Regions from separate parts of the Homo sapiens genome. Here all the other regions are reported to be linked to region 4. The links are microRNA targets in miRTarBase. Many come from high-throughput screens and were not tested one by one. Region 4 holds a microRNA gene; each other region holds the end of a gene's coding sequence.

The links. The annotated mature microRNA hsa-miR-3675-3p reads CAUCUCUAAGGAACUCCCCCAA and lies in region 4 at 3,005-3,026, opposite strand. An mRNA with a match to its seed (bases 2 to 7 or 8) in the 3' UTR can be bound and repressed. Matches are read on the target gene's strand: a 7mer-m8 pairs with bases 2 to 8, a 7mer-A1 pairs with bases 2 to 7 and ends in A, and an 8mer does both.
Region 1: the mRNA of ELP3 is a reported target of hsa-miR-3675-3p. Seed matches in the 3' UTR shown: 7mer-m8 at 2,496-2,502.
Region 2: the mRNA of ZNF660 is a reported target of hsa-miR-3675-3p. Seed matches in the 3' UTR shown: 8mer at 4,001-4,008.
Region 3: miRTarBase lists HASPIN as a target of hsa-miR-3675-3p. The part of its 3' UTR that is shown has no 7-base or 8-base seed match.
Region 5: the mRNA of RIPPLY3 is a reported target of hsa-miR-3675-3p. The part of its 3' UTR that is shown has no 7-base or 8-base seed match.
Region 6: the mRNA of ZNF268 is a reported target of hsa-miR-3675-3p. Seed matches in the 3' UTR shown: 7mer-A1 at 3,547-3,553 and 7mer-A1 at 596-602.

What each region holds. Positions count from the first base shown.
Region 1 is chr8:28,189,150-28,193,241 of GRCh38, reverse strand. ELP3 (elongator acetyltransferase complex subunit 3) reads right to left here. Exons shown (of 15, transcript NM_018091.6): 15 at 2,089-3,593. The coding sequence ends at 3,517. Among named protein-coding and RNA genes, the nearest start is that of ELP3, 98 kb to the right of the region's middle. RefSeq lists an enhancer at 886-1,638.
Region 2 is chr3:44,594,330-44,598,436 of GRCh38, forward strand. ZNF660 (zinc finger protein 660) reads left to right here. Exons shown (of 3, transcript NM_173658.4): 3 at 1-4,107. The coding sequence ends at 860. The region is part of intron 2 of ZNF660-ZNF197 (ZNF660-ZNF197 readthrough); the gene reads left to right. The region is part of intron 2 of ZKSCAN7-AS1 (ZKSCAN7 ZNF cluster antisense RNA 1); the gene reads right to left. Among named protein-coding and RNA genes, the nearest start is that of ZNF660-ZNF197, 11 kb to the left of the region's middle.
Region 3 is chr17:3,725,689-3,729,795 of GRCh38, forward strand. HASPIN (histone H3 associated protein kinase) reads left to right here. Exons shown (of 1, transcript NM_031965.2): 1 at 1-1,011. The coding sequence ends at 644. ITGAE (integrin subunit alpha E) reads right to left here. Exons shown (of 31, transcript NM_002208.5): 24 at 3,790-3,867; 25 at 2,417-2,480; 26 at 2,231-2,338. Among named protein-coding and RNA genes, the nearest start is that of HASPIN, 3.8 kb to the left of the region's middle.
Region 4 is chr1:16,855,954-16,860,060 of GRCh38, forward strand. MIR3675 (microRNA 3675) reads right to left here and starts at 3,068; the gene lies at 2,996-3,068. It also overlaps the pseudogene PDE4DIPP9.
Region 5 is chr21:37,017,534-37,021,533 of GRCh38, reverse strand. RIPPLY3 (ripply transcriptional repressor 3) reads right to left here. Exons shown (of 4, transcript NM_018962.3): 4 at 1,872-3,660. The coding sequence ends at 3,327. Among named protein-coding and RNA genes, the nearest start is that of RIPPLY3, 13 kb to the right of the region's middle.
Region 6 is chr12:133,204,010-133,208,116 of GRCh38, reverse strand. ZNF268 (zinc finger protein 268) reads right to left here. Exons shown (of 6, transcript NM_003415.3): 6 at 1-4,107. The coding sequence ends at 3,587. Among named protein-coding and RNA genes, the nearest start is that of ZNF268, 25 kb to the right of the region's middle.

The DNA of each region.
Region 1 (4,092 bases), not on the chromosome of region 4:
GAATGAAACACAAGTGTATTACTGGTGTACACAACTCCAACATATAGAAAGGTGTCCCCTCCCCATGCCAACCCCTGCCACAAATGGCTGCCAGACTCCCTAGGCGGACACAGCCACCAGCTCACACTGGGATCGGCAATGCGTGCTGCTGCTGGACAACTTTCCAGGAAGCCACTCCAGTGACAGCGGTATTTCAAAATGCTTTTTGCTGTTGCAGTCTCAGCTAGGATCTTGGCCCTCAAGGAATGGATTTGACAATGTGCAACCCTAGACTTGTGGAATAAAATAGACCAGAGGAGGAGGAGAATAGGGTCTTGGAGCATCAGAGATACTATTCTTCTGACATGGGCTTCTAGAAAAACTTAAGATTGTAGCAAAGAATCAGAAATTCTATTGTCAGCAGAGAAGCTCCCTCATTGAAAAAAAAAAATGGGCTGACGATTGCACTTGCTAGATATTAGTAATCAAAGCTAGTGCGTCTATAATATGCTTCCTGTTCTAAGAACCCTGCATACATGGGCTTCTGTAGTCCTCACTCCCATCTTACAGATGAAGAAACTTTGCAGGGTTGACTTGCCCAAGGTCACACATCAGCAGTGAAGCCACTTCAGTGGGGGCAGCAACAACTATTGGTATATGTCCTGGTTTATGCAATGTCTCTCAAATGCCACATCTGATTCCTATGCTTGCCCCGAGAGACACGTGTTTACAAATAGGGAAATGGTAGCTCAAAACGGGGAGGGGCCTTGCTCAAAGCTTCATGGTTAATGAGGAAACCAGGTTTTCAGATTCCAGATCTTGTGCTTTTTTTTTTTTTGGTAAACTCAGGGGTCTGTGAGTTCTTTAGGAGCAGGATTTTCTGTTTTCAATGTGATAATCTTGAAAACAAAAAAGCCAAAACCCCATTGGCAATGAAAATTTGCAATCTGAAAGACGTTTTAGGGGAACAGGCGTTGGTTTTTGAGTTGTCTTTGCAGTACTTTAGGGCCTGCAGAGATGGAAAATGGATAAGCGGTTTGCTTGTTCCCAAATGGGAGGAACAATGAGTTTTACCAGGCCCTTTCATTCGGTGATAATGTATTTTAAAAATCTCATTTTCTCTTCAAATTTATTTCAGTCTGTTTTTGATATGACTTGAATTAAAAAAAGAAAAAAAAAAAAAAACTTCAGGTGATGTAGCCAGAAGTTGAGCTAAAAGCAGAGCTTTCTAGATTGGAGGTGGTTGCTAAGGAGTCCTTCCATTCAGATGGGATCAGCCTGCAGCTGTGATGGTTTCACACTGAGGCCAGCAGAATTGTGCCCAACTGAGCTTTCTTATGAGGTGGCCCCACAGGCCTCGGAGCAGACAGACCAGCCGGACAGTGGAGGTGCCAAGCACCATCCGTGCCGGAACGAGCCCTGGCAGTCACAAGAGAAGCGGAAGCTTCTGGTGGCAGAGGGAGGCGGGAGCTCTGCCACCCGGGGGAAGCTCCCCAACTGCTGCCGTTTTGCACAGGCCACAAGATACGGCAAGGAAGGCCAGGGATGAGCTAGAAAGAGGGATTCTCGTGAATCCTGAGATAAAACCAGGATTCAATAATAGCTGACAGCCATCAGAAAGGTGCAAGTTCCTGTCATTTTGTTTCAAATTCCCTAAATTGTCATCTTTTGAAGTGAACTTTCCACGTGCAGGCCTTTTTACCATTTCACAAAAGCCCTTTTATGTGTGTGGATCCATTTGGGCACCTAGGACAGATGAGAAGGTCGAGGCCCAGAGACTTTGTGCTCCAGGGCTGCGCAGCTGGTTCTGTCTCCAGCAACACAGCTCTGACAACCAGCGGGAGTAGGCTTTATTGTTTTATTTTTATAGGGTAAAAAAGCATAATTGAGAAGTAGCTAAGTCCCTAAACGACACTCATGGAAAGCTGTGGTGGTTCCACAGCCAGCCCATAACAAAGCCACTGCCATTTGCCTCATAGCAGTTTAATGAAATGGCAAACAGCACCCGGGAGGAAATGAACAGTGCCATAGGTTGGAAACTGAAACCTGCACATTTGTGGCAAATGTCACTGCATTTACAGGGAGAGAAAGAAAACCACATGACTCTTCTTTGTATGTTAAAGACTTTTTATTTTCAGGCCCTTTCAGAGGAATCAATTCCTTTAAACCTTTGTAAAATGCCACAGGAGCCAAGGTTAAGCGATGCTTTTAACTTAGGAACTGACCCTCTCCAGGCAGAGTCTCCAAAGTAGATTACCTCGAAATTTCAAAGAGGCAGTTCTACAAGAGGAGCCTTTGAAGAAGCCAATCCTGTTTTCCATTGTTTTGCTTTCACACACGGGTTGAACTTGAACTCTTACCTTTCTCCATTTATAACAACCAAAATCCACCTTAAAAAATCAAAGGCTGGGAGCGGTGGCTCATGCCTGTAATCCCGGCATTTAGGGAGGCCAAGGTGGGTTGATCACCTGAGGTCAGGAGTTCGAGACCAGCCTGACCAATATGGTGAAACCCCCATCTCTACTAAAAATACAAAAATTAGCAGCGGCGGGTGCCTGTAATCCCAGCTACTCAGGAGGCTGAGGCGGGAGAATCGCTTGAACCCGGGAGGCGGAGGATGCAGTGAGATTGCGCCACTGCACTCCAGCCTGGGTGACACAGCGAGACTTTCTCAGAAAAAAAAAAAAAATTGCAAGTAATGGCTTCTGTGGAAGCAAATCTTGATTTAGGGGCACACAACCTGAGACTCCACCCGCTCAGGATAGACAGACAGGAAAGCCAAACGCTCTCTGGGGACCACACTTGGGGCTGCCCACACTGCTCTGTAGTTGCCAAGAGGGTGGGAAGTAGAGATAACAAAGAATGTGGAATGAAGCTCTTTGTCATCGCCGTCTCGGATGGTAGACTCCCGCCTGGGAGAGGCTGCTGGCTGGCTGCTGCCAGGCTCACACCCCCACAACTGCAATTCCTCTTTCCCAGTCACACTGCTATTTATTTCTAAACATCAGCACTGTAATCAGAATGATTTCCATGAAAACAAAAGCTCATTTTCCTAACTTGCGCTCCAATGCGTATGTCGTTAAAGGGCTGAGATTAGAGTCTGGTGGTTTTCCTGTTTCAACCTGACTTTCTGTCCCCAGGGTATATAAATAAACTACTCTTAAGTTTGCTCCTCGAATGACAATCAGTTTTATTGCATGAGTTATGGTGTCCAAATGAGTTAATTTGCTTTTTTCACCGTCTGAGTCAAAATAGGCCACCTGCAGGCCTCATGCAAAATGTAGAAACTGGATAGATGATTTAAGCCTCAAAAACGCAAGTGATTTTTTGGGGTGCACGCAGGAGAGGGCGGATCTGGGGTGTGGTCAGCAGATGACCAGCCGTGGCCTTGAAGGCAGTTTCCAGTCTCTGCAGCTGCGGGATGAGGGTGAAGCCCCCCATTTGCTCTGCTCAGCCTCTCTGTTGAGTATTTAAGAAATCCTGATTCTCCGTGTTCTGCCAGGGAGGATACTGCAGAAGAGTGGACTGGTGTGGCCATTATTTCAGCATCTTCACCATGTACGGGCCTTGTAATCTGTAGCCGATCTTTCTATAATAATTCCTGGTGCCGACCCCTGCAGAAAAATCGAAGTTAAAAAAGGAGCATTCACTTTAGCAATTCTCAAAAGTCGGCATGTGCTTCCCTCAGCCTTACACTCTCTCCCACCCAGAGACCAAATTCTCTCCCACATAAAATCTCAGCTTAATAAGTTTGGAACATTATTACTTTGAATTCAGGCTGCATTAAAATATAGAAACTGCTAAGTGGAGAGAAGAAGACTCTTTCCCTGATTTTTAACTCAAGCTCAGGGTATGTGACACACACACTCACAGGCAACAGCAAACGTGTGCACCCGTGTGTTGGAGCCTGCGTATTCACTACCCTACTGGCAACACCAGGCACCACCTTAGGTGCTACAGGTGAAGGAGAAGAGGTGGATTTACTGTCTGAGCTGCCTATGCTCCAGATGAGGCCAAACGATAGACGGTTTCCCAGAAGTTTTAAAGAGAGAAGAGTGGGGGAAAAAATGGGATCTCCACTCAGCCCCAGTAGCGAAGGTACACTTGTGGCTA
Region 2 (4,107 bases), not on the chromosome of region 4:
AAAAGAGACAGTATGTATGTACTGAGTGTGGGAAAGCCTTTAGTCAGAGTGCAAACCTCACAGTACATGAGCGAATCCACACGGGAGAGAAACCCTATAAGTGTAAGGAGTGTGGAAAAGCTTTCAGTCATAGCTCTAACCTTGTTGTTCATCGGAGAATCCACACTGGACTGAAGCCCTATACATGCAGTGAATGTGGGAAATCTTTCAGTGGAAAGTCACATCTTATTCGGCACCAGGGAATCCACAGTGGGGAGAAAACTTATGAATGTAAAGAGTGTGGGAAAGCCTTTAGTCGGAGTTCGGGCCTTATATCACATCACAGAGTTCACACCGGAGAGAAGCCCTATTCTTGTATTGAGTGTGGGAAAGCCTTTAGCCGTAGTTCAAACCTTACTCAACATCAGCGAATGCACAGAGGAAAAAAAGTTTACAAATGTAAGGAGTGTGGGAAAACATGTGGTTCTAATACAAAGATTATGGACCATCAGAGAATTCACACTGGAGAGAAGCCTTATGAATGTGATGAGTGTGGAAAAACTTTCATCTTAAGGAAAACTCTTAATGAACACCAGAGACTTCATCGTAGAGAGAAACCTTACAAATGTAATGAGTGTGGGAAGGCTTTTACTTCTAATCGAAACCTTGTTGATCATCAGAGAGTTCACACTGGAGAGAAACCCTATAAATGTAATGAATGTGGGAAAACCTTCAGGCAGACTTCTCAAGTTATTCTACACTTGAGAACCCACACTAAGGAGAAACCCTATAAATGTAGTGAGTGTGGGAAAGCCTATCGGTATAGTTCACAGCTTATTCAACACCAGAGGAAACATAATGAGGAGAAAGAAACCTCATAAATAACAAATATTGTGGGTAGTAGGGCTGACTGCTGCTTTTCTAAAAAGTAGTTCTTTAGTATCAACTTTAATTCTACTTCTAAGAATCATACTCTACTTCTAAGAAAATAATTAGAAGTAGACAAAGATTAATGAAAGGGATGTTCATGACAGCATCATATACGACTGAAAGAAGAAAACTAGATTTTCAACATTACAGGGTTGAAATGAATGATGAGCTATCCATATGATGGTTCTGCAGCCATTGCAAACATTTTTAAAGACAATTTAATGCCATGGGGAAATGATTGGATAAGACGGAAGATAATGACATACAATCCAAAATTTAAAAAAATATTTTTGCATAGGAAAAATTGAGAAGGAAGTAAACCAAAATGTTAACAGTGATCATCTCTGGGCGATAGGATTATAGGTGATTTCTATTTTCTTCTGTATACTTTTCTATGCTTTCTAGATTATCTACATGAGAATATACTAATTTTATATGCAAGAAAAAAAGCACAGTATTTTTTAAATGCAATGAAGACGTGCTTATTTTCACTCAGCAGTGTTATGAAAGGCACGTAGTATATAGAGCCCAAAGCCCTGGGATTGCACCCTGACACTGGCATTTAGCAGCAGTGGAACCGCGAGCAAGTCCCTTCCTTTTAGAGCGTGTTTCCTGTTAAGTAAAATCATAAACACCGATCCTTTGTCCTTTTTAGTTTTAAGACAAGCTGACTTTAGAGTTGTCAACAAAATATATAATAACACTGTTAGGTTAAAAGAACACAGCAAAAATTCACTGAACCCTCCTTTCCCACAGTTCTGGAAGGATCTGCAGATGATGGAGAACTACCTAGGCTTCATCTTTTCAACATATGTCTACACAACCAGAAAAAAATGAAATTGAAACAACTGTAGACTCAAAAACTTCAGATACAGTCACCAGTTAATATAAAACTAGTGGGAGACTCTGCCTTCACATGGTATATAGAGTTTAAAGGCTAAAAGTACAAACTTTGGGGTTGGAGATATCCATGTTCTAACCCCAGTTCTACCATGAACTAGCTTGTCAGTTTTGGACAAGTCACTTAACTGCTCTGAGCCTCAGACCTGTGTGTAAAAAAGGAACAATTACCTACCTTACAAGGTTGTTGTGAGGATTAAGTGAGTAATGCATGAAATATATGATAAGCCAGACACGTGGTAAATGATAAAATCTTAAGTATAGGACATTGTAGCAGTGTTTCTAAACACTTTAGGGAGAGTGATTAAAGAGAATTTTTGTGTAAGGTAGTACTTAGGATATTTTCAGATGTATTGAACAGAATACCAAGTACTAGCAGCCTAGACCTTAAGAACATTGATTGATTGCTTAAGGGGAATCTAGAGGTAAGCAGTGCTATGTTTGGTTTGGCAACTCAGCACTTCATCACACTTCTCTCTTAACTCCATAATTTTCAGCATGTTGACTTTCATTTTTCATAACCTCATGGTGGCAAGACAGTGGCCACAGCTGCATCTTGCCTTCACACAACTCCTTCAGATTGGGAACTGGAAAAGGAGCTGAGGCTTTCTCATCTGGTTTCTTCCTTTTGTCACTGAGAAAAATCTTTCCCTGAAGAAGGGACGGAGAGGTGTTGAGCAATCAATACAACAGATGTTTTCTATCTTCCTCTGCCTTTCTTTATGACCAGTCCTCCTTGAAGGTCTTAGCCCATCTTCCACCAATATTTAAAACATTTTAAGTGCTTAGCTCAAAGTCACTCTGAAACACTTAGAATCTCCCTATTTTTAACTCAGCCATTCCTCTGTGTATACAGTGAATCCCTAAGCCCACTGTTATCTGTCTTATGCACATAGTGAATTAGTGTTTGGGGAATTTTTGATAATATGTTATTTAGTTCTCCCTCTATTATACAAGAAAATTGAGTGTCATTGAGGTTAGGTGACTGGCTAGTAAGTTGTCGGAGCCAGGATTTGAGCTCAGATCTGACTTTGAAATTCATGCTTTCTTCATTATACCAAAGTGCCTCTGCCCACCATGGTGGTTCTGTATGTGAGTGGAAGACCAGTTGGCGTTTTCCCAGGTAGCTGCCTCTATGAAAGGTGATTGTATCTAACAATTATTTGATATTTGACCATGGTTTTATAGGGAAGATGTTATCAGTGTTCTGTGAATGGGGTTTATGGCCTATCTCTGTACCTCATAATTTAGTTTTAAGGTATATATATTTCTTTCTTGCTGTTACCGGAAAGAAAGAAGTGAAGGGTGAAGGTTGTATATTTGTGTGAAAAAAAATTACTGATTTTGTCCTATTTTGATAGGATAGTGGTTTGCACATAATTTGTGATATAATAGTCCTTTGCATGGTCATTCCAAGCAGGGTTTGGAAGGCCTGGAACAGATTTGTAGCATTCATGGACAAGCCTGGTCTATCATTCCTGAGCAGAATTGTTGATGCTTTATATATTGCTGAGCAGATATTCTCTGACCAAAACATTTTTTCACCACCATGTCATAGTGCCTAAAACTCTTTATTTAGATAGGCTTTCTTTTTTGTCTTAGAAGACTATGATCTTCAAGAGTATATCTCAAGGAAGGATATGATGCCATCTCATAACCAGAGAACTGAATATAGGAGAGCTTCATATTTCTTGCCCCAGGCAGGCGAGGATTATAGTCTCTTGAGGAGGCCATCACCCATCTTCTAGGCTAATACCTGCCTTGAGCTGTAGGAATAAACACTTGACAGTGGGTTCCTGCATCCTTTCAGATAAACATTCAGCTATAATTTGAACTGATCACCCACCTTTCTCCGGGAGTCTCCCAGGGTTACCAACTTTTACCTCAGTCAGAGTTTAGGCATGCAGCTCTTACCATCCTTTCAAGCCCTTTCATAATACCCTCTGGAAACCAGGAACTGTCTCTTTTAATGTGCTTTCTTTTTCTTTCTTTTCTTTTCTTTTCTTTTTTTTTTTTTTTTGAGATGGAATCTCGCACTGTCGCCCATGCTGGAGTGCAGTGGCGTGATCTCAGCTCTCAGCTCACCGCAACCTCCAGCTCCCAGGTTCAAGCAATTCTCCTGCCTCAGCCTCCTGAGTAGCTGAGATTACAGGCACCTGCCACCACACCCAGCTAATTTTTGTATTTTTAATAGAGATAGGGTTTCACCATGTTGGCCAGGCTGATCTCGAACTCCTGACCTCACAAGATCCACCTGCCTCGGCCTCCCAAAGTGCTGGGATTATAGGCATGAGCCAC
Region 3 (4,107 bases), not on the chromosome of region 4:
GCTCTGCAAATGACCGGCCTGATTTTTTTAAAGACGACCAGCTCTTCATTGTGCTGGAATTTGAGTTTGGAGGGATTGACTTAGAGCAAATGCGAACCAAGTTGTCTTCCTTGGCTACTGCAAAGAGCATTCTACACCAGCTCACAGCCTCCCTCGCAGTGGCAGAGGCATCACTGCGCTTTGAGCACCGAGACTTACACTGGGGGAACGTGCTCTTAAAGAAAACCAGCCTCAAAAAACTCCACTACACCCTCAATGGGAAGAGCAGCACTATCCCCAGCTGTGGGTTGCAAGTGAGCATCATTGACTACACCCTGTCGCGCTTGGAACGGGATGGGATTGTGGTTTTCTGTGACGTTTCCATGGATGAGGACCTGTTTACCGGTGACGGTGACTACCAGTTTGACATCTACAGGCTCATGAAGAAGGAGAATAACAACCGCTGGGGTGAATATCACCCTTATAGTAATGTGCTCTGGTTACATTACCTGACAGACAAGATGCTGAAACAAATGACCTTCAAGACTAAATGTAACACTCCTGCCATGAAGCAAATTAAGAGAAAAATCCAGGAGTTCCACAGGACAATGCTGAACTTCAGCTCTGCCACTGACTTGCTCTGCCAGCACAGTCTGTTTAAGTAAGCTAAATGTATCTTACTGCCCCGAAATGAGAGGAGACTGGTCTTGAAGCCTCTGGTGCTGTTTCAACCTCCATCCCCACAGGAGGGTGGAACTCCCATTCTCACAGGTTTCCAGTCAGCTTTTCAAACAAGAATTTTGTTTCCAAATGGAAACTGAAATATTTGTTGAAATGTTTAAATTTGCTGATAACAAATGTTCTGAAAGAAGTAAACTAGCCGGGCACAGTGGCGTGCGCCTGTAGTCCCAGCTACTCGGGAGGCTGAGGCAGGAGGATCGCTTGAGCCCAAGAGTTCATATCTAGCCTGGTCAACATAGCAAGACCCCTGTCTCTATTTTTTTAAATAAATAAACTACATGTGAAAACAAACGTTTATATTTATAAACCCTCTTTTTTTTTTTTTTAATTTTATTGAGACAGAGTCTTGCTCTGTCACCCAGGCTAGAGTGCAGTGGTGCGATCTCAGCTCACTGCAACCTCCGCCTCCCGGGTTCAAGCAATTCTCCTACCTCAGCCTCCCGAGTAGCTGGGATTGCAGGCATACACCACCATGCCCGGCTAATTGTTTGTATTTTTTTAGTAGAGATGGGGGTTTCACCATGTTGGCCAGGCTGGTCTCGAACTCCTCACCTTGTGATCCACCCACCTCGGCATCCCAAAGTGCTGGGTGATTACAGGAGTGAGCCATGGCACCTGACCTATAAGCCCTCTTTCTAATTGTCAGCAGAGTCCTTTCTGTAAATTCCTTTCCGTTTTTTGAGCCTTAACACTTATGTAGTCTGAGCAAAAAAAAAATGCCCAGGCTTCAGCTTCATACTGAGCAGAGCCTGTTGCTTCAGGTATCAAGGCTAGCTTTGGGAACCAGACTACAGATGAGACAACTGAAAGCAAAGAGGCTGAGGCAAAGCAGAGACCAAAAAAGAGTCTCAGGGGAGAAGAAGGGAAGCTAGTAAGCAACTTATAGGGGGCAGTGTAAGAAATGTCACATGTTACATCGCTCACACAGAGAAGCAGAATTTATCAATTTTCAAAGGGAAAATGTCTCTGTCTACTGACAAGGTTTTAATTTTTGCTTTTTTTTTTTTTTGAGATGGAGTCTCACTCTGTCTCCCAGGCTGGAGTGCAGTGGCAGGATCTCGGCTCACTGCAAGCTCCGCCTCCCGGGCTCACACCATTCTCCTGCCTCAGCCTCCCAAGTAGCTGGGACTACAGGCGCCCGCCACCACGCCCGGAGAATTTTTTGTATTTTTAGTAGAGACGGGGTTTCACCGTGTTAGCCAGGATGGTCTCGATCTGCTGACCTTGTGATCCACCCGCCTCGGCCTCCCAAAGTGCTGGGATTACAGGTGTGAGCCACCGCACCTGGCCAATTTTTGCTTATTTTTCCTCAAAGGGAGGAAAACTGACAGGTTGCTTTAAGAGCTGAGTGATTGAGAGTCCTTCTGAACAGGACTTCGGGAATTTACTCCTAATCTTTTCCCATGGTTAACTTGTCTTCACTCTGTTTCTAGAACTCTGGTTTTTATACTTGAGACTCTGTAGTCACTGTGGAAAGAGGTGTGACTGATAAAGAACTGCCTTTAAATACCTGAGTCCTCGTCAGCTTCTTCACTGCTACAACCTGGAGACCTCGTAATTTGGTTGGGACGCAAATTTGCAACTGGTATTCTGCTCCAAAGAGGTTCTCCCCATGTACCTGCAAATTAAAATCAGAGTAGGAAATCAAAGCTGGTATTGCTTTGCCATCTACAGCTTTACAATAATAAGTACTTACATGGAAGAGGAATTCTTTGTGGTGAGAAAGCCCCTGGCCTGTGTTCACGTACATTATGGATGGTCTGCAATTGACAGGACATGCGTCAGCCCTTGAGGAGTCTTTCTCCCTTTTTTGGAGACAGGGTCTCACTCTGTTGCCCAGGCTAGAGCACAGTGGAACAATCATGGCTCAGTGTAGCCTCAACCTCCCAGGCTCAAGTGATCCTCCACCTCAGCCTGGGAAAGTGTTGGGATGACAGGCATGAGCCACTACACTCATCCCTTTTTTTTTTTTTTTTTTTTTTTGAGGTGGAGTCTTGCTCTGTTGCCCAGGCTGGAGTGCAGTGGTGCGATCTCAGCTCACTGCAACCTCTGCCTCCTGGGTTTAAGTGATTCTCCTGCCTAAGCCCCCAAGTAGCTGAGATTACAGGCGCCTGCCACCACACCTGGCTAATTTTCATATTTTCAGTAGAGACGGGGTTTCGCCATGTTAGCCAGGCTGGTCTTGAACTCCTGACCTCAGGTGATCCACCCACCTCAGCCTCCCAAAGTGCTGGGATGACAGGCGTGAGCCACCGCACCTGGCCTTCTCTTTTTGAATGAACTCGACTGCTTTCAACTGAATACATTAGGACAGAGGGCACCAGACCTTTACCAGGAATGAGGCCGGGTGCAGTGGTTCATGCCTATCATCCCAGCACTTTGGGAGGCCGAGGCAGGCGGATCACCTGAGGCCAGGAGTTCAAGACCAGCCTGGCCAACATGGTGAAATCCCCGTCTCTATTAAAAATTTTTTAAAAATTAGCTGGGCCTGGTGGTGTCCACCTGTAGTCTCAACTACTCGGGAGGCTGAGGCAGGAGAATCGCTTGAACCTGGGCGGCAGAGGTTGCAGTGAGCCGAGATGGCACCACTGCACTCCAGCCTGGGCGACAGAGTGAGACTTCGTCTCAGTTTAAAAAAAAAAAAAAAAGGAATAAAAGCTGAATGTCAAAATATAAAGTGGTCGTAGCGCAGTTGGGGTGAGGTGGAATATTTGAATTCTGTATCGTTGGGCTGGTTCATTTTCTAATTATCCCTCAAATGGCCTTACTCATCCCCTCCTTACTTCCCAGTCCCACAGCTGCCTTCTTCCCTCCACAGCGTCATATTAATTCCCTTTTGTAGCACGACTAGTTGGCAATACACCTCCTTTGATGACCACAGTGGGGTTTCTGTGACCCAAATGTTAGCACCCTAGAGATCAATATCAGAGCCTGGGTTCTAAGCAGGCTCCTCTCAGAAGGACAGTGTCCACATTCATCCTGACCACCAGCTCCATCTACGAGAGAGAGCCCAAAGCTGCCCCCTGGGCGATGGAGTCACACCGCTGCTGGCCTCTTGGGAGTACTCACTTGGACAGAACTGCAACGAAGCCATGCCTGAATTGAAGGGTGTGGGTCTCGTTGGCCAAAGACCGTCTTTCATTGGAACTAGGAATAAGAGTGTTAGTTCATAGCACACCTGCTTTGTACATAGCAAGTGCTTCTTAAAAAGGGCTTCGCTCTGTTGCCCAGGCAGGAGTGCAGTGTTGCCGTCTCAGCTCACTGCAACCTCCGCCCCCCGGGTTCAAGCAATTCTCATGCCTCAGCCTCCTGAGTAGCTGGAATTACAGGCGTGAGCCACCATACCCAGTTAATTTTTGTATTTTTAGTAGAGATGGGGTTTCACCA
Region 4 (4,107 bases):
CTGGGGTCAGACTTGTTGCTTCAAATCCCAATTTGTAAACTTTCCTATGCTCCAGTTTCTTCAAATGTTAAAATAGTAATAAAGGAACTACCTACCCCATCAGGTACTAATGTCAATTAAATGAGTAAATTCTTATAAAATGCTTTAGAACAGTGTCTGGCATCGGGTAAAATGCTGTGGATTAGTTCTCATTCTGACTACCACTGCCCCAATACACTGATGTTAACATGCTGATATATTTATTCAAACTCTTATTTTCCTTTGCCTATTTTTCACACAGTTATAACCCAATAAACTTTTAAATTATAGTAAACTTTAGAGAGCATTAAACTTGCAGCATGCAGAAATAGCTTGTCCTACATTCTTGTGGCTATCCTAACTAGATAAGGCCATGTTAATAATGTCTTGAGAAACATCAGTGTGTGTGGAATGAACACAGGATGTTGGAGGATTTGAATTCAGGCTCTGCCACGTGCTAGTTTGAGTGATCTAGAACAAGCTGGTTTACCACCTCTCTTTAAGTTTTGGTTTCCCCAGTCAGTAAAATAGAGAGTGGTGAAACCTAACTTGTGGGTATAAGGAGGATAAGAAATACTGTATTTGAATGCCTAGTACAGTGTCAGGGTTGAATAAAGTACGACTTCACCTTTTTCCCTAGTAATTATTATCCTCATGACCAAACCTGCCTCCTCTCAAAGGCAGTGGCCACAACAGCACATCCAACTTTTATTCAGGAAGACATCTTTGTCTTTTTTCAGAGCATGAGGAGCACAGCAGCCGCAAGGAAATGGTCCTGGTGGAGGGGCTGTGCTCTGAGCAGGGGCGCCGGGGCTGAACGCTGGCTAGTTCCTCTGAGAGGAAGCCCTTGGAGAATGAACTAGGGAAGCAGGAAGAGTTCTGGGTATATGGAAAGTCAGAAAACATCTGGGTCCTATGAAAGGACATCAAAGATCTGAAGGCCCAGCTGCAGAATGCCAACAAGGTCATTCAAAACTTCAAGAGCCAGGTCCAGTCCCTCTCAGTTACAAGTGATTATTCATCTAGTCTGGAAAGACCCTGGAAGCTGAGAGCTCCTGACACCCTGGAGGGGTCTTCACCTCATAGTGTCACTGATGAGGATGAGGTGTGGCTGTCTGATGGCACTGGGGCTTTCTACTCTCCAGGACTTCAGGCCAAAAAGGACCTGAAGAGTCTCATCCAGAGAGTATCCCAGCTGGAGGCCCAGCTCCCAAAAAATTGACTAGAAGGGAAGCTGGCTGAGGAGCTGAGATCAGCCTCATGGCCTGGGTAAGGATGGCACTGTCTGGGCACTTTCTGGATTGAAAATGTGTAAGTTTGTGCTTGGTGTAGGGTAGCTCAGGCAGTTGGAAGAAACAACATGTCTGGGTATTCACAAGGACACTGATTTAAATGGTAGATATAGGTCTGTGGAAAAGACAGGTAGGCAAGCAGGAGGGCATAGGATGATGTCCCAGTATCTGGGAGATACCAGATCTCAGGGATTTCCTCTTAGGGATATATCAGTAAAGTAATAGTACATATGGTATAGTATAGTATAGTATAGTATAGTATAGTATAGTATAGTATAGCATAGTATAGTGGTAATACTGGAATCAGACTGCCTAGCTCTGATGCTTACTACCCATGCAACCTTCTTAACCTTTCTGAGCCTTTGTCATTACCTATTAAATGAGGATGATAACAGAACCCATCTCAAAGGGTGGATATTAGGTTTAAATGAATTAATACAAGTGCTGGCCAGGTGTGGTGGCTCATGCCTGTAATCCCAACATTTTGGGAGGCTGAGGTGGGCAGAACACCCGAGGTCAGGAGTTCGAGACCAGGCTACCCAACATGGTGAAACCCTGTCTCTACTAAAAATATAAAAATTAGGTGGGCATGGTGGTGCACCCCTGTAATCCCAGCTACTCAGGAGGCTGAGGCAGGAGAATCGCTTGAACCTGGGAAGTGGAGGATGCAGTGAGCCGAGATGGTACCACTGCACCCCAGCCTGGGTGACAGAGCAAGACTCTGTCTCAAAAAAAAAAAAAAATTAGTACAAGTGCTTAGAATGGTGCCCAGCATACATTAAGCTCTCAATGCTATTTGCCATAGTTATCAGTGTTATTGACACTTTGTGTTGAAAACACAGACATTCATCTTGGTATGCGTCCTGGTTATCTACTGCTAAGTAAGAACCACTCTAAAACTTAGTGACTTCAAACAGTACTTTATTATGCTTCATGGTTCTGTGGTTTGACTGGGCTCAGCTGGGTGGCTCTCACTTAGGGTCTCTTGTTTTGGGTCTCATCAGTTGATGGCATGAGAGTTTATGTGATGGCCATGATTGCAAAATACAGTCAGCCACAGTATCACAACACAGAAGAAATTCAGACATCAGGTGGTGGTTAAAACAGAAGACATGAAAGGTCCTATCTAGACTTAGGATGAGATGAGTCTAATTATTCATTGAGTATCTGCTGTGAATCTCTGTGATGCTGGTGCTGTAAGGGATGTGAAACGCAGAACTATCTTCATTCTCACAGACCTTACGATTTATCTAGGGACATATAATTAACATATATAGAACAGTTGAAGAACAGTGGCATGGTAAATTTTTTGTTTTGTTTTGTTTTGATACAGAGTCTCACTCTGTCACCCAGGCTGGAGTGCAGTGGTGCCATCTCGGCTCACTGCAACCTCTCCCTCCCAGGTTCAAGCAATTCTCCTCCCTCAGCCTCCCAAGTAGCTGGGATTACAGGCATGTGCCACCATGCCCAGCTAGTTTTTTTGTGTGTTTTTAGTAGAGGAGGGGGTTTCACCATATTGGCCAGGCTGGTCTCGAACTTCTGACCTTGTGATCTGCCTGCCTCAGCCTCCCAAAGTGCTGGGATTACAGGCGTCAGTCACCACGCCCGGCCCATACTAAATTTTTAGTGCAATAATTTATCAGGGTAGAATTTACTCTTAAATACCTCCTATGGCTTACGTGCCAGAATTCAGTTTGGGGGAGTTCCTTAGAGATGTTCTCATAGAAATCTCTACAGAAGCCCCATAACTTATCATCCACCCTTTCCTCTTCTGTCCTGCATTAGGAAATATGATTCCCTGATTCAGGATCAGCCCCGGGAACTGTCTTACCTACGGCAAAAAATACGAGAAGGGAGAGGTGTTTGTTATCTTCTCACCCAGCATGCAAAAGATACAGTAAAATCTTTTGAGGATCTCTTAAGGAGCAATGACATTGACTACTACCTGGGACAGAGCTTCCGGGAGCAACTGGCCCGGGGAAGCCAGCTGACAGAGAGGCTCACCAGCACACTCAGCACCAGTAGGTTGGCCACAGGGCTTTGGATACTCTCAGTCACCCCACAGTTCCAGCCCCTGGTGGCCACCACATCTCCACTGCAACTTTTTAACGTAGGGTCCTGTTTCTATTTCATTTCCTGGGGCTAATACAGGATCAAGACTGCTCAATGGGGAGCATGGAGAGGAACACACAGGGCTGGAGATGCCATGGTTACAACTCTAGAAACTTCACCACTCATGGAATGTGACCTGTGGGGCAGGGGCGGCATCTCTCTGGTGCTAAGAGGGAGTAGGGGACATGACATGGAAGGGCCTTGTTATAGGAGGAAGAGCCGTGAGCTAACAATTGCAAGACGTCGAGGCGCTGAGGCCAAAGGGTCCGTGAGGAAACAGGCGCAGCTCGCGCCCCTCGGCCTACGGGAGGGAGGGCAAGGAGAGTCCTACGGTTCCTGGGAGGACGAGAAGAGCCAAGAGCCCCGACGGCCGGCGCCGGGGAAAAGGCCCCGAGGCGGGGTCCGCATCCCTGGAAGGGCGGCGTCCACCCTCCTGAGAGGCACGGGGCGCCCAGGGCTCGGACGCTCAAAGCCCGCCGGCTCCTGCAGCTTCTGGGAGCCGAAGAGTGTCAGCCGGGAGGATCCCGCACACGGCGCTTAGTTCTGGAACTGCATACCCAGGGGAGGATGCGGGAGCCCGAAGCCCGGGTATGTGTCCCCGAAGCCCGGGTGTGGGTCCCCATGGTTTTCGTGTTGGGGGTGGGCGCGGAACGCTAAGCCTGGGCCTATTGGGAGCCATAGTCTT
Region 5 (4,000 bases), not on the chromosome of region 4:
CCAAAACCCTGGAGCTCTTAGGTTTGAGACTTTTAGTTAATTCACGTAATTGTAACAATCAGAGAGCTAAGGAGGCCCCAAGCTCACCATATCCTTGCTATCAAAAATGTCTGACCCACAGTATATGTGATTCCATTGCTAGCCATAGCTAAAGTGCCTTGTTTTGTATTTGCACTAAGCTGGCCAGATTCTAAGTAATTTAGAATTAATGTAATGTAAAACTATCATACAGCATATATTAATCAACTTTTTTGAGCAGGGTCTCTTTCTGTCTCCCAAGCTGGAGTGCAGTGGTGTGATTTTGGCTCACTGCAGCCTCAACCTCCCCAGGCTCAGGTGATCCTCCCACCTCAGCCTCCCAAGTGGCTGAGACTACAGGCACGTGTCACCACGCCTGGTGAATTTTTTGTATTTTTAGTAGAGAAGGGGTTTCACCATGTCCAGGCAGGTCTCGACCTCCTGGACTCAAGTGATCCACCTGCCTCGGTCTCCCAAAGTGCTGGGATTACAGGGGTGAACCATCTCACCTGGCACACGCAGCATATTTTAAACTGTGGAGGTTGATGCCATCAGAATTTGGACTATGTTTGGTTTATTTAGGATAAACTCATTATTGGACCAGGCTTTATTTGTCAATAAAACTGATTTATCAAGAAAACTCAACAAAGTCAGATGTGATTATTTAGTTTTTATCTTAAGCATCACATGAAGGAGTGAGGATAAGACTTCTAGCATTTTTCTGTGAAAAGCCAGCAAAATTCGGGGTCATCTTAAATCCTTTCTGAAATTGACCCAGGTTTAATTGTTTTTAAGTCTGAAAAGATGTACTTTAAACAAGTAAAAGAAACAATAAAATATAATTTTTAATTTTTAAATGAAAAAGTAGCCAAATTTGTTCAAAACACAAAAAAGTAAACATTTTAAAAGAAAAAAAGGCCCAGAAAAGAAAAACACACAAAAAAGGAATTTTTCAAAAGACTGAAGCCATAAAACACAATTGATGTTTGTTATCTTTAGACAAAGGAAAGGGGGAAGAGCAGAATGTGATTTTACTTTGCAATGTGTACTTTCTATAGTGTTTGGATTGCTGAAAGTATTTCCATTCATTACTCCTACTTTTTAATATATTGGGCCTAGTATGGTGGCTCATTCCTGTAGTTCCAGTGCTTTAGGAGGCCTAGGTAAGACGATAGCTTGAGGCCAGGAGTTCAAGAGCAGCCTTGGCAATGTATTGAGAACCTGTATCTACAAAAAAAAAATTTTTTTTAATTAACTGGGTGGCTGGGCATGGTGGTTCATGCCTGTAATCCCAGCACCTTGGGAGGCCGAGGTGGGTGGATCACCTGAGGTCAGGAGTTTGAGACCAGCCTGGCCAACATGGTAAAACCCCATCTCTACTAAAAATACAAAATTAGCCAGGCTTGGTGGCACGTGCCGGTAATCCCAGCTACTCAGGAGGCCAAGGTAGGAGAATCGACTGAACCTGTGAGGCAGAGGTTGCAGTGAGCCGAGATTGTGCCATTGCACTCCAGCCTGGGTGACAAGAGCGAAACTCCGTCTCAAAAAACATTGCTGGGCATGGTGGCTCACGCCTGTTGTCCTACCTACTGCGAAGGCTGAGGTGGGAGGATTCCTTGAGCCCAGGAGTTCAAGGCTGCAGTGAGCTATTATTGAGCCACTGCACTCCAGCCAGGGACGGAGCAAGACCCTGTGTCTAAAATTTTAAAAAATAAAACAGAATACTGAAATAAAATAATAGGTTATAATTTTAAAAGAATTATTTTTAAAAACCATGAAAAATGAAAAAACCTTAAAGCAGAAACTATTTAATTCTAAAAATGTCTTAAGCAAAAAAGGGTGATTATCAAACATTCTTTCAAAATATTTATTTCAAGTAGAAATTGATATAATGTACTATATACAGGAAGACACCACATGTAAGATAAGTAAGTCAAAAAGTTTCAGGAATACACGTTTATCAAAATATTAAAAACTCAAAATAATTTTACATCAGATACTTTAATTAAAAATAGTGTTCATGGGTTAAGGGTAGGGTTAAAAAAATAAAAAATTAAAAAAGTAGTGTTCATCTATTAAAATACCAGGCCCCAAACAGTCACCAACTAAGAAGAGAGACGGTTCTACTCCCTATAAATTCATACACACAGGCCTCCTTATACAGTCATCACATACATTTTTATCTAATTGTCTCCTAAAAATCCCTATCTTTCTGTTACTCTTTTCTTTCTTTTTTTTTTTTTTTTTTTTTGAGACGGAGTTTCGCTCTTGTTGCCCAGGCTGGAATGCAATGGTGCGATCTCGACTCACGGCAACCTCCGCCTCCCGGGTTCTAGCCATTCTCCTGCCTCAGCCTCCCGAGTAGCTGGGATTACAGGCATGAGCCATCACGCCTGGCTAATTTTGTATTTTTAGTAGAGACAGAGTTTCTCCACGTTGGTCAGGCTGGTCCTTTTTGTTACTCTTATGGGAATTATTCGGCGGGTTAAAAAAATTTTTTTTTAATAAATACATTTTTTTTTGGCCGGGCTCAGTGGCTCACGCCTGTAATCCCAGCACTTTGGGAGGCCAAGGCGGGTGGATCACCTGAGGTCAGGAGTTCAAAGCCAGCCTGACCAACATGGTGAAACCGAGTCTCTACTAAAAATACAAAAAATTAGCCAGGCGTGGTAGCTCATGCCTGTAATCCCAGCTACTTGGGAGGCTGAGACAGGAGAATCACTTGAACCCAAGAAGTGGAGGTTGCAGTGAGCCGAGATTGTGTCACTGCACTCCAGCCTGGGAGACAAGAGCAAAACTCCGTCACAAAACCAAACCAAACCTTTTTTTCTTTTTTTTCCAAAATGCTACTAAGCAACTACATCTACCCTTGGATGATAGATTAAAATTGGAGTTTAATATCTGAATTATTTTTACAAAAGCAGAAATAGCTAAATAATGAGTCTCAGGTTAAGTAGGAGGTGGAGTGGGCGACTATCTAGGAAGAATTCATCACCTGATCAGTGAGTGACAATGCAGAAGGAGCTTTGAAAACTGGCTCTATGAGATAACAACTCTGTTGACATAGACCTTCTCTTTCTCCTAGAATCCTTTCTCAAAGGCATGCATGAGTGCACCAAAAACGAATTGCCAGGGGAAAGAAAAGTAAAAGCTGACTTTCTGTCATGAGTAGTGTGCAGGCCAGGGGCTGCCCGAGAAGCCTCTAGCCTCTGCACACTCAGCAGGGATGCGTAGTGTCCTGGCTCGGGTGTCCCCAAGAGAACGTGAGGGGCAGGTCCCAGAGCAGGGCCCAGGAGACAGAGACTGATTCATTTGGATGAGGAGCACTTGCCACCCCTTGAGGAGACACCTTGAGGGAGCGGACCCTCCCCCCAGTGGTCACCCCCTCCTGAGGATCGCTGCCCTTGGTTGATGCCCTGGTCTCTGCCCTTTCCCCCTGGGCCATTTTCCTGCCGACCTCCCACCTCCTGGGGCAGAAGATGGAGGGGTGGGGGTCCTTCCTCTGGCTCTTCAGCTTCGGAAGCAGACTCAGTAGACTCATCGTCGTAGAAGTCAATCGTGGCTTGCACTGGGAAACTGGCCAGTACTTGCTCCCCGGAACTCCGCAGGTATTCTTGACGCTTTGACATGGGTAAATAGACTCTAATATTTAAGAAACAAATATACCATTAATCAACCTGAACCTCGTCCTAAATTGCTTCTAGAGGGTGCTTTTTCCCAGAAGCAGAGAACTCCCCAGTCTTCCTTTCTGGTCTTTGCCTTCACAACACACAGAATTTAAGTCATCAGAACAGAGAACTCTAGGCACCTATTGGAGGCACCTGGTGATAAACCTACCCCGGTTCAGAAGTGAGTTATAAATCTGACTGAGCCAGTCAATTCAGACAGTCGCAAGGAAGAGGGTGTGCTTCAAGGAAGGTAAAAGGCAACTGAAAACACTGAGTTCCAAGATTAGGAGGCTCACTCTGATCAAATAGCGGAC
Region 6 (4,107 bases), not on the chromosome of region 4:
CCTCAGCCTTCCCAAGTGCTGGTATTACATGGATGAGCCACTGCACCTGGCTAATTTTACTTTAAAGGAATCTTTCTACTATTTTATCATTAAGTATGACATTTGTGTTTTCAGAACATATATTCCCTACCAAGTTACAGGAGTTAATTTTAATTCCCAACTTAATAGTATTTTAGTGTCATCTATGGGTGTTAAATTCCATCAAGTGATTTATCAGCATATACTGAGATAATCCTTATGAGTTTTATCTGGTAGTTAATTAAAATATTTTCTAATATTAAATCTTCCAAACATACTCTTCTGTTTTTTGAGACAGGGTCTAGTTCTGTCACCCAGGGTGGAGTACAGTGGTACGATCTCAGCTCACTGCAACTTCCGCCTCCTAGATTCAAGTGATTCTCCCGTCCCAGCCTCCCAAGTAGCTGGGATTATAGGTGTCAGTTACCATGCCCTGCTATTTTTTTGTATTTTTAGTAGAGAGGGGTTTCACCATGTTGGCCAGGCTGGTCTCAAACTCCTGACCTCAGGTGATCCACCATCTCAGCCTCCTGAAGTGCTGGGATTATAGGTGTGAGCCACCGTGCCTGGCCCCATATATCTCTTTTTAAGTGGGCATACTGCCATTATAAATAATAGTGATTCTGCTGGTAATGAACAAAGGATGCTGGATCCACTAATAGTCTGTTAAACCTAATATCATGACTTTCTTGTTAGCTATACATTGGTTTGCTATAATTCCATTTAGAATTTTTAAACCTATGTTCACAAATATGGATTTTTAAACCTATGTTCACAAATATGGATTTTTAAACCTATGTTCACAAATATGGTTTGCAAGTCATTTTTTCTCCTAAATTTCTATTTGATGGGGAAGTTGTAAAATATTGGGGTTATTTTTCCTTGGATTTTCCTTATAATAACTATTCCTGAAAAGTCTCTGGAATGTCTTTCTTTTCTGGGGCTGGGGTAGAAGGACTAGATAGATTTACAAACCAGTAACTCAATTTCTGTTTTGTAAAATTTTCATTTCATTAAATAATAAGTCCTAATCAAGTATTATTCTTTCCCACAGTATGTGAGTGCTGTCCTCAATACTGTCAACACTTCTGGCTTCTACCAGGCAAGGCTGCATGTAGATTTGCATCTGAAAAAACAACAAACTAAAATCTAACCCTAGGTAGTAGTAAACTGAATATAAACTTTCTCTTATGAATTTATTCTGTCTTCTTTGGTACATCAATAATAATATACACCTTTACAGTATTTCCCAGATTGGGGGATACACTTTAGCAAGTATCTGCGATTATTTGTTTATGTAAGATGTCCCTTCCCTTCTGTGAATCATCATTCTTCACCCCAAGTATCTTGAGATTGGATTCTGTATAAGCAGAATACAACAGTTAGGCATTCAGGTATCATTAAATTCCTCCGCTTCAAGGATGAAAATTTCTTTGGGTATCTAATAGAGTACAAAGCAGAAGGTGTTTCAGAAATATTTGCAGTATTGAATCCGCATATTCCTCCAAGATAGCCCTAATCTAACTGGCAGGGTCCCACTCTTCCCAGATTAATGCCCACTCACATAACAAACCTGATGAGGTAGTGAAGAAAACTAACTTTGTGAGTAAGCAACTGGCAGAGTTTTTCACCACTGTGACTCTATAGCTACATGTAACTAAGTAGTATCACTGACACATAATCTTAAATTGAAGTTTTAAGATCATTATTCTCCATGTTATACATGGGTATCAAAAGCATTCCCCTCTTGACCACTCCAGAATTCTGTTTAAAATTTTTCAATGACAACTTATCCATTTCCCCAAAGCCTCAGTGAGCACATGATGCCAACAATTCATTTCATGACTTCATAGCATGGGCCAAGTTTCTTGCTTAAAAGACTTCCATCCTGTCTTGGGAAACAACCATTTCCAAATATCCACATATCCTTGCAAGTTTCTGCCTACTCCTCTACCACCCATTTCTGAAGCCATCTGATTTAGTAAGCTGTATGCAAAAGATACACAATGGCTAATGCAATCAAACAAGGAATGTATTAAAAGCACACCCAATAGCTCAAAATAAAAGACAAGTGAACAAAGTTAAGAAAATGACAGTAACAAAAGCTGTTCTGGGAACCTCTATTGAAATAGCTACTTATTACATCAACATGCTACCACAGAACAAAAGCTCATGTTGCTTTTCTGAACTTGAAAAACCCATTAACAATGTACAGTTCTGAGCCTCAGCTGACCATAGTGCTCATGCCAAGTCCTGAGCAGGGCATCTTGAATGGTGGTTCCCTCATGACTACATACACCGTTAGGGAATGTTTCGTTAAGAGGAAATCAAGATGTTCTAACCTGTGAAGGTAGAATAGATTCCAGGCTACACAAACACATGAAGTGTGCCTTATATTGATTACTAAAGAGGTTGCTGCCAAGACTGCTTCCAAAGGGCAGAAGATAGCCCTAAAAAATGTTTGCAGTGTGGAAATGCATTTTTAGTAAGTCATATTCTAGTAACAAGTTGCATTTGGTAAGACACAAAGAAACAATGTTGGTATGCAGAGTAGAAATCTCTGGAAGATGATATTGTCATATCAGAGATATTGTCAGTATCAGAGATACTGAAATCTCTGGAAGATGATTTTTGTCTCACATATGGCATTCGCAAGTAAAATGCCAAACTGCAAAATTCATATTATGTAGTACACATAGGAAGATATCTAAATATCCCTGTAGGCTCTGGGATGTTATTTCTTATTCTTAACCTCCTTACTAGATTCACTTGTACAATGAAATAATCTGTATCTTATTATTTATAATTGAGAATTTTCTCAAACCTTTTCCTGAAATTTTGGAACACCTGGAATAAAATTTCTTAAAATGATTCCTAAAAGAAATAATTCTTCAAAATTAATATTAAGATATAATAACAGGTTGGTTTTTTTTTTTTTTTTTTTTTTTTTTTTTAGAATGAAGCTTCTAAGGTGAGGTTAACAGTCCAGCTGTGGTTTATTTGGTACATTCATAAGATGTTCACTCCTATATATATTTTTTCCCTAGGGGTTTCTCATTTCTAGATTTACACTTTCCCTTATAGCATGGTCCCTCCAAGGTATATGCTTCCGATACATAAAATGTTTGTAATTTTGTTAATTCTGCCATTCATTAGCTCAATAATTTCTCTCATTAAAATTCTGTAAACTATGAATTTCAAAGAAGTCTATTCTATATTCATCTGGTTCATGAAGTTTCCTCTTTGTGAATCTTATTTTAGTAAAATGACTTTACAACGTTTAACATGGTTCCTCACCTGTATGAACTTTTTAAAAAAAGGTATGACTTGCTGCTAAAAATTTTCAGAGTGGTTACTAAATTCAGTTTTCCTGTGTATTGTCTACTATCTTTTTGCATGTAAAGAACAGCTTTCTGTGGATGCCTTTCCATATGCTGTGCATTCATAAAGTTTCTATTCAGTATGAGTTTTCTGGAAGATGACAAGATGATTCCACTTACAGAGTTTCTCTTTATATATGATTGTTTCTATCTCTTGTGAATCCACTTTTCAGAGTTTCGTAAAATTATCAATGTTTGTCATCTACATGAGTTCTCTGATGCATAATGAGCTGTGACTTCCAACAAAAGGCTTTCCCACATTCAGTGCACTTACAAGGCTTCTCTCCTGTATGTGTTCTCTGATGTGCACTGAGAATTGATTTTTGAGAGAAGGTTTTCCCACATTCATTGCACCCATAGGGTTTCTCTCCTGAATGAGTTCTTTGATGTACAATGAGTTGAGAATTCCTAATGAAGGCTTTTCCACACTCACTGCATTCATATGGTTTCTCTCTTGTGTGCATTCTCTGGTGTACAAGAAGGCGTAATTTCCCACTGAAGGATTTCTCACATTGACTGCATTTATAAGGGTTGACCCCTGCATGAGTTCGCTCATGTACAATGAGTAGTGATTTCCAAATGAAGGCTTTCCCACATTCATTACATTCATATGGTTTTTCACCTGAATGAGTTCTCATGTGTATAATTAGGTATGACTTGCTGCTAAAAGCTTTCCCACATTCACTGCACCCATAAGGCTTTTCCCCTG